2 linked regions of the Homo sapiens genome follow. The protein of the gene in region 1 interacts with the protein of each later gene in a pairwise test. Each region holds a gene or a part of one and is shown on either strand. Other genes may lie near its edges.

What was found.
Region 2: the proteins of PPIL2 (region 1) and PRCC interact in a two-hybrid assay, tested with the Homo sapiens proteins (one large-scale study listed by BioGRID and IntAct).

What each region holds. Positions count from the first base shown.
Region 1 is NC_000022.11:21,672,512-21,676,011, reverse strand, and holds part of PPIL2 (RING-type E3 ubiquitin-protein ligase PPIL2), read right to left. Parts: intron 949-3,500; coding exon 897-948; intron 1-896. UniProt on the Homo sapiens protein: Has a ubiquitin-protein ligase activity acting as an E3 ubiquitin protein ligase or as an ubiquitin-ubiquitin ligase promoting elongation of ubiquitin chains on substrates.
Region 2 is NC_000001.11:156,770,535-156,774,034, forward strand, and holds part of PRCC (proline-rich protein PRCC), read left to right. Parts: intron 1-3,500. UniProt on the Homo sapiens protein: May regulate cell cycle progression through interaction with MAD2L2.

The DNA of each region.
Region 1 (3,500 bases):
CATAGCATCTCCACAGGCAAAAGACCTGGACTAGAACCTAGCACAAGATCACCACCTGGGCAGGGGTGGGCTGCACAACTCATCCGGGCCTCTGGCCACAAGAACAGCGGAAGGTGTGTAATGGGCATGAAGCAGGAGCCGCAGCACTGGGCTGGGCTCTATGAGCTGTGGCAAAGAAAAGCCTAGCCCAAGAGCTACTGGACAAATCCCTCCAGACCACCCACATCCCCTACTCAGCTGCCGCCTTGGTTCCCAGCATGAGCAACTTCTGCCTCCAACAACAAACAGACCACAGCCTCAGCCAGAGGGGGCCCATGCCCTGCAGATCCAACTGTGCCCACAAAGGCCACTAGCAGCTTACAATGGCCTGATCGCCTTTGTGGGAAGTTCCCAACACCACAGGTTCTGCCCCCAACCTCCCCCACCTTAAAACTACCCAGACCTTTGAGAAGAAATCTTGTGACACCTTTTTTTTTTGAGACAGAGTCTCGCTCTGTTGCCAGGCTGGAGTGCAGTGGCACCATCTTGGCTCACTGCAACCTCTGCCTCCTGGGTTCAAGTGATTCTCCTGCCTCAGCCTCCCGAGTAGCTGGGACTACAGGCGCCCGCCACCATGCCCGGCTAATTTTTGTATTTTTAGTAGAAACGGGGTTTTACCATGTTGGCCAGGATGGTCTCAATCTCTTGACCTCGTGAACCATCCGCCTCGGCCTCCCAAACTGCTGGGTTTACAGGTGTGAGCCACCGTGCCCAGCCCTGTGACACTTTTTGCGGAATTAAAAGCAGGTGTCTAGCTTGGTCAGAAAGCAATGACTGATTCCGTATGAAAACTGGTGAGAGCTGGGCCCTTGGGTCTGCAGGTCAAGCCCAGAATTGGCTGTGATAGTTCCACTCACCCTCACTGTTCTTGGAAAAGTTCAGCTTGATCAGGGACCTCCCGTCCAGCTTCTGGAAGAAGCACAGTTAATAATTAATGATAATGAATAAGTAACTGATGCACAGAGATGCTAGGGTCAGAGACAGGCAGGAAAAGTCTCTGACTAGGCCAACCCTGTGCAGCTCTGGACAAAAGGGAAGGCCCCAAGACCCTGCAAGGACCTCACGGGGGCTGCAGGATGGCGTCGGGCAGTTGTGTTTATGTGGCACCCCCACCACGCTCTGAGAAGAGCCGTCACGGGTGACCCCGAGCAGGAGGACCAGGCCACAGGGTGGTGTGTGTTATACTTCTGCAGGGTTTGGACGTCTTTATGGTGAGCACAGATTACTTCTAAAATTAAAAAGTGAACATATTTCTTCAGCTAGAGTGGTGGGACACACAGAGTCCCTCTCTGTCACCAGGCTGGAGTACAGCGGCAACATCTCAGCTCACTGCAACCTCCCACTCCCTAGTTCAAGTGATTCTCCTGCCTCAGCCTCCCGAGTAGCTAGGACTACAGACACACGCCACCACACCAGGCTAATCTCCTGACCTCATGATCTGCCCACCTGAGCCTCCCAAAGTGCTCTGTCATATGAATATTTAAGAAAAACAAAACATTAAAAGTGGGGAGAAAGTAAGAAATACACTCCAATGCTAAGAATGGTTGTGTTGGGAAGATGGGACTCTATTTTTCTGTTTCTGGATGTTTTTTCTTTTTTCTTATTTCCCCTACCCCAGGTGGCAGGTAATGTTTTCAGTTTCTGTGGTGTGTCTGCAGTACAGCTCTTCCACAGCAAACTTTCCCATAAAACAAAGTCTGGACAACCGGAGGTGGGAACTGCTGGGGGCGGGGCTGTGGGGAGACCCTGGAAGGGAGGCAGAGCTATGTGCTGCTGGGGAGCACCTCACTCAGGGCCACAATCCAGCAGCTGCTGCCACCTGGTGTGGGCTGGGCCCAGCTATGCCTACCCAGGCCCAGGGGAGACACAGCGGGAGCCTCCTGGGGCTGGGCCCTAAGCTGGCAGCAGGTCCTTAAGCTGCCCTCCCCGCCCTCCGTGGGCCCTGCCTGCTGCTGGCCAACCCAACTGACCGCATCTGCTCCTCTAACCACCTTCGTTCCTTCCTTTGTCATTCAACTACCCCCACCTCCCTACATCACTACAGGTGTGGAGGAGACCACCAGAGGGCCAGCAGGGTCCCTATTCAGACACAGGACCTGAGCAGAGAGACTCCCCAACACAACAGGCTCCTCCTGAGCCCCCAAAAGTCACATGGGCCAGCCAGCCCTTGGCCCAGGAACTCTCCTCAGAGGTTTGGCTAGCAAGGCTCTGCTGACACCCATAGGTCTGGCCAAGCAAGCACACAGCAAGGTCCCTTCCAGAGCAGGCCAAGGGAGAGGCGCAGGCACAGGATAAAGACGTGTAGGGCGCTCCTGCAGACTCACCCCAACATGATGCCTGGAACAAAGAAATGGCCACACCTCCCTGATGTAAGCCCTAACAGCGTGGCTAACTGCCAGATCAGACTTTGTGGGTGTGGGGGCCAGCACAATCGACAAGTTTGGGAACCCCAAAGAGTACCTGTGAAGCAAAACACCCAAAGTAGCAAAATGCATCCCAGCTGCAACCAAATGACAGAATCCACTGGGACAGCAGGGGCCATGAGGGCAGCTGTGGACAGGAAAACCCCACCTACCCCCACCTTGCCACCAGGCTGCTCCCTGAGGCCGACACCCAGCCACACAGGGCACAGGCAGGCAGCAGGGACCTCTGCTGAGAAGAGCAACAGAGAATGACTTCCCAGACTGGGGCACGGACCTTGGGGGAAGCCCCTGGGATCCAATGTGGCTCCCAGCAGCAGACATCACAGAAACAGTCTTCAAGTGACAAAGACCAAGGAAGAAGAGTGCCCTCCCTAAGGAGGTGAGGCCACAAGCCCCCTACCCAAGCATTTGAAAGAGAAAAGCCACGGGCTTTAGTCGCTGGTCCAAGAACACTCAAAAACCAGCCCCCTGGCCAAGTTCCCCTTGTACTGGAGAGCAGGGAAGCCTTGGAGGAGCACCAACTCCATCTACAAAGAGTCCCCAGAACCCTGCAGCCCCCAGAACACCACAAGGGCCAGAAGAGCTGAGACAGATGGGCTGCCAGCTTCTCCTGCTGGCCCGGTAGGGAGGGTCATATTGTCCAGGGAGCTCCCTCCCAGCGGCTCCAGCACAGGGAGCCCACCGGAGTCCCGACCCTCCGTCTCGCACAGTTTGAGCTCTTGCCCCAGGCCATAGGAAAGAGGTGGAGGAATACATGCAAGTAATTCCAACAGGAAGGGCAAGGTCACTGGTAAAATACACTAGATCTCCCTCGGAACCAGGCTGCATAATGTCCCCACAAAACTGATGCTCACTGGGAACCTGTGAATGTGGCCTGACTTGGATATAATCAAAGGTTTATATAGGGTCTTTGCAGATAGAATCAAGTTAAGACGAGGTCACAGCTATGGCCCAAGAAAAGACATGCACATATATACACGTGCACAGGCCGGAAGCATTTCTGGAAAAGAATGGGTGTGGGGAGAGGAGGGGAAGACT
Region 2 (3,500 bases), on another chromosome or scaffold:
CAGCTAATTTTGTATTTTTGGTAGAGACTGGGGTTTCTCCATGTTGGTCAGGCAGGTCTTCAACTCCTGACCTCAGGTGATCTGACCACCTTGGCCTCCCAAAGTGCCGGGATTACAGGTGTGAGCCACCACGCCAGCCAACCATTGTCTTTAAAAGAGCTGTGCCCCCTCCAGATGTAAGCCCCTCCAGTTCTGAGCTCTATGTCTTACACTTAGGCTCTTAGTACGCATTTGAAAGAATGAATTAGGTTTCCTTAAGTAAATAATTTCCCTTTAGAGTTTGGTGCTGAAGTAGAAGTAATTAGAAGTAATTAACTCTCAACCATTTCGTTCAATTGATATTGAGCTCTTTCTTTGTACCTGGAGCTAAGAATGTACAGTAGTGAACATGATAGCCCCAGCCCGAAAGGAGCTTATGATCTACTGGAGAAAACACAGAAGGAAATAGATTTTAGGACAAGGCAGAGAAGGACCGTGATAAGCTGGTGCCATTGGAGTATACCTAGTGGGCATTAGTCCAGTCTTGGGAGGTTGGGGAGCCCTCTGGGGGGAGATGTCTAAGCAGAGATAAGGCTGAAGAAAGGGTAGTATGGGAGCAGCACAGCAGAGGAAACAATGTATAAAAGCTTGGAGGACAGAGAGGGACAGTGCTTTCAGGGAACCTCAGGTGAGTAAAGCACAGTGGCTGGAGCATTTGAGAGGGTGGGGAGTGCTGAGAGAATGGGGCTAGAGAGAGAGAGGCTCAGGCCAGATAATGGGCCTTGGATGCCATGCTAGGGTCTTTCTACCTCATTTTGGGGTTGTGAAGACCCCTTAAAGGCAAGAATTCTCTGATCACAGAGTGGTGAGAACCTTGGAGGGAGCAAGACTGGCAGAATGTGAGAGGCTGGTGGCCTGGATGATGAACTAGGGGATGGAGAGAACTGGAGCATCGAGGTATATTTAGGAGGGGGAAGTGATAAGACTGGAGGATTGATTAGATGTTACACTAAGGAGAGGATTCAAGATTGACCCCCACTGCATTTGCCTCAGGCAGCTGGGGGGTGGTGTTGCCATTTATTGAGGGAATACGGGAGGCAGAGCAGATTGGGGGTTAGTTAGATTTCATTTGTTGCAAGTGTTAGAAGCCAACTCAAGCTAGTTTAAATGTTTTTTTTTTTTCTTCTTTTTTAAATAAATAGAGACGTTGTCTCGCTACATTGCCCAGGCTGGTCTTGAACTCTTGAGCTCAAGCAGCCCTCCTGCCTTGGCCTCTCAAAGTACTGGGATTACAGATGTGAGCCACCACGCCTAGCCTTAAATGGTAATGCATCATAAATATACTGTGGTACCTCAGAAGGGACCTGCATCAGGAACCTGAGATCTGTTGGGGATCTCTACACAGCTGTTCTTTGCACATCTGATTCATTTTTTAAAAAATTTGTTTTATTTTTAAATTTTAATATATTTATTTATTTATTTGTTTTGAGACCAGATTATGGGACTGGTCAATTTTTGTATTTTTAGTAGAGATGGGGTTTCACCATGTTGCCAAGGCTGGTCTCAAACTCCTGGGCTCAACTGATCTGCCTGCCTCAGCCTCCCAAAGTGCTGGGATTACAGGCGTGAGCCACTGCTTCTGGCCTTGATTCATTATTTCTCTGCGGATTGGCTTCTTAACCTTTGTTGTAGGTGAAGGATGGCCACCCACACCTTGGTTTTGATTTCTTTCCTTTTAGAGATCAGTCCAGATTGAACTATGATGGTAGTCTCAATTCTGGTTTTCCTGGAGTGAGAATTTGGTTGATTTGATTTGGGTCATATTATCCAATCATCTGCAGTCAGCGTAGTACCAAATTCTCCCTCCAGGCGTATTCCAAAATTAAATTCAGTCAGCTTTTGATTTTTGTGGGGAATTAGGAATGATCCATAGAATGGATAATCGTCCTTTCTTTTTCCCTTCTTGCTGTGACCCAAGCTACACTGGTTGATTTCATAGGCTCAGGGGAGGCAGACTTCTCCTAGCATATGAGAAACCAAAATCAGAAGAATAAGTCTGCTGGAAGAGTTTTCTATCATTTATAAAGTGTATTCCAAAGCACACAGAAATTTCAGGGTTATCTGGATTAGTATTTACCACCACTTTCAGATTGTTTACCAAGATAGTAGAAAATTTGAAGCTCTGAGACAGATTTCACTAATTTTTGTCACTTCTAGTAACCAAATAAGAATTGCCTGCAGTGGATTTAGCTAAGTTTTAGCCCTAGCTAAAGGGAAGGGAGAGTGTGCTTATCTGTGTGGGGCACCTGCTTAATGTCTGAACTGTGCTGGGCACTTACTTTAGTTTATAAAGAAGAAAACAGGAGTTTAGAGAACAGAAGTGATTTGCCTGAAAACACAGTTTGTGAGTAGCTGCAATTGTATTTGAACCTGGATGAGATTTGTTGTGTTTATCGGGGTGTCTATGGAAAACATGGAAGAGCCTGGGGCAGCCAGAAAGCAGAAAGCAATACAAATGAGGAGTGCAAAAATGGGAGTGAAAACGGTATCCTAGCAGCAGGTACTTGAGACTTAAGAGTGAAAAAGGGTTGATGAATGTAGCAAATGGGGATAACAGTAGTAATGATTAGGGTTTGGAGCCCCGGGGTGTGGTGCTTAGGGGGCGTCTGTTCTTGGGTTCTTATTTCCTCCTTGGCTTTTAGTCCTGGAAGCTAGTGATTGCTTTTTGGAGAGGGAGTGTCTCAGAGCCAGAGCCTGGGAAGATAAGAGAGAGGCCGCCGTGGGGAATGAGGCTCTGATAGATTAGCAGATCCCACTGGACCTAGCTTAATGGAAAATGTCTGTTTCCGTTCTTGCTCAGCAGTCTCGGGGTATGTGTGTCTTGTCACTCTTGGCAGCTGGAACAGAGAGGACAGTGGTGGCCATTGAGGCTCAGGTTCTCGTGAGGCCAAGAAGAAATACAATACTTTCTTATTAACAGACTCAACAGTTTGTGCCTCAAAACCAATGTGTGCCTATTGTGGCCCGGGACACTCTCAGCCCTGGATGCTCCGGTGTTTCTAGCATTGTCCTTCTTTCTTGATCTAATGGCACAGACCCACTCAGATGGCCATTTGCTGGTCTTTAGCACTCTCTAGAAGTTGACTCCACAACCTCCATTTAATATACTCTTGAGGAAAACAGTTTGGCAGTTCCTCAAAAGGTTAAACAAACAGAATGATGATCCACCAATTTCACTTCTAGGTGAAAAGAATCAAAAGTGGAGATTCAAACAGATACTTGTACACCAGTGTTCATAGTAGCAATACTCCCAGTAGCCAAAGGTGGCAACAACCCAAGTGTTCATCCACAAATGAATAGGTAAAATGTGGTATGTGCACACGTTAGGATATTATTCAACCTGAAAAAGGAATGAAATTCCGATACGTGCTACAACATGGATAGACCTTGAAGACATTATGCTAAGTAAAGTAAGCCAGTCACAAAAGGACAAATATTTTATAGTTGCGCTTATATGAGGT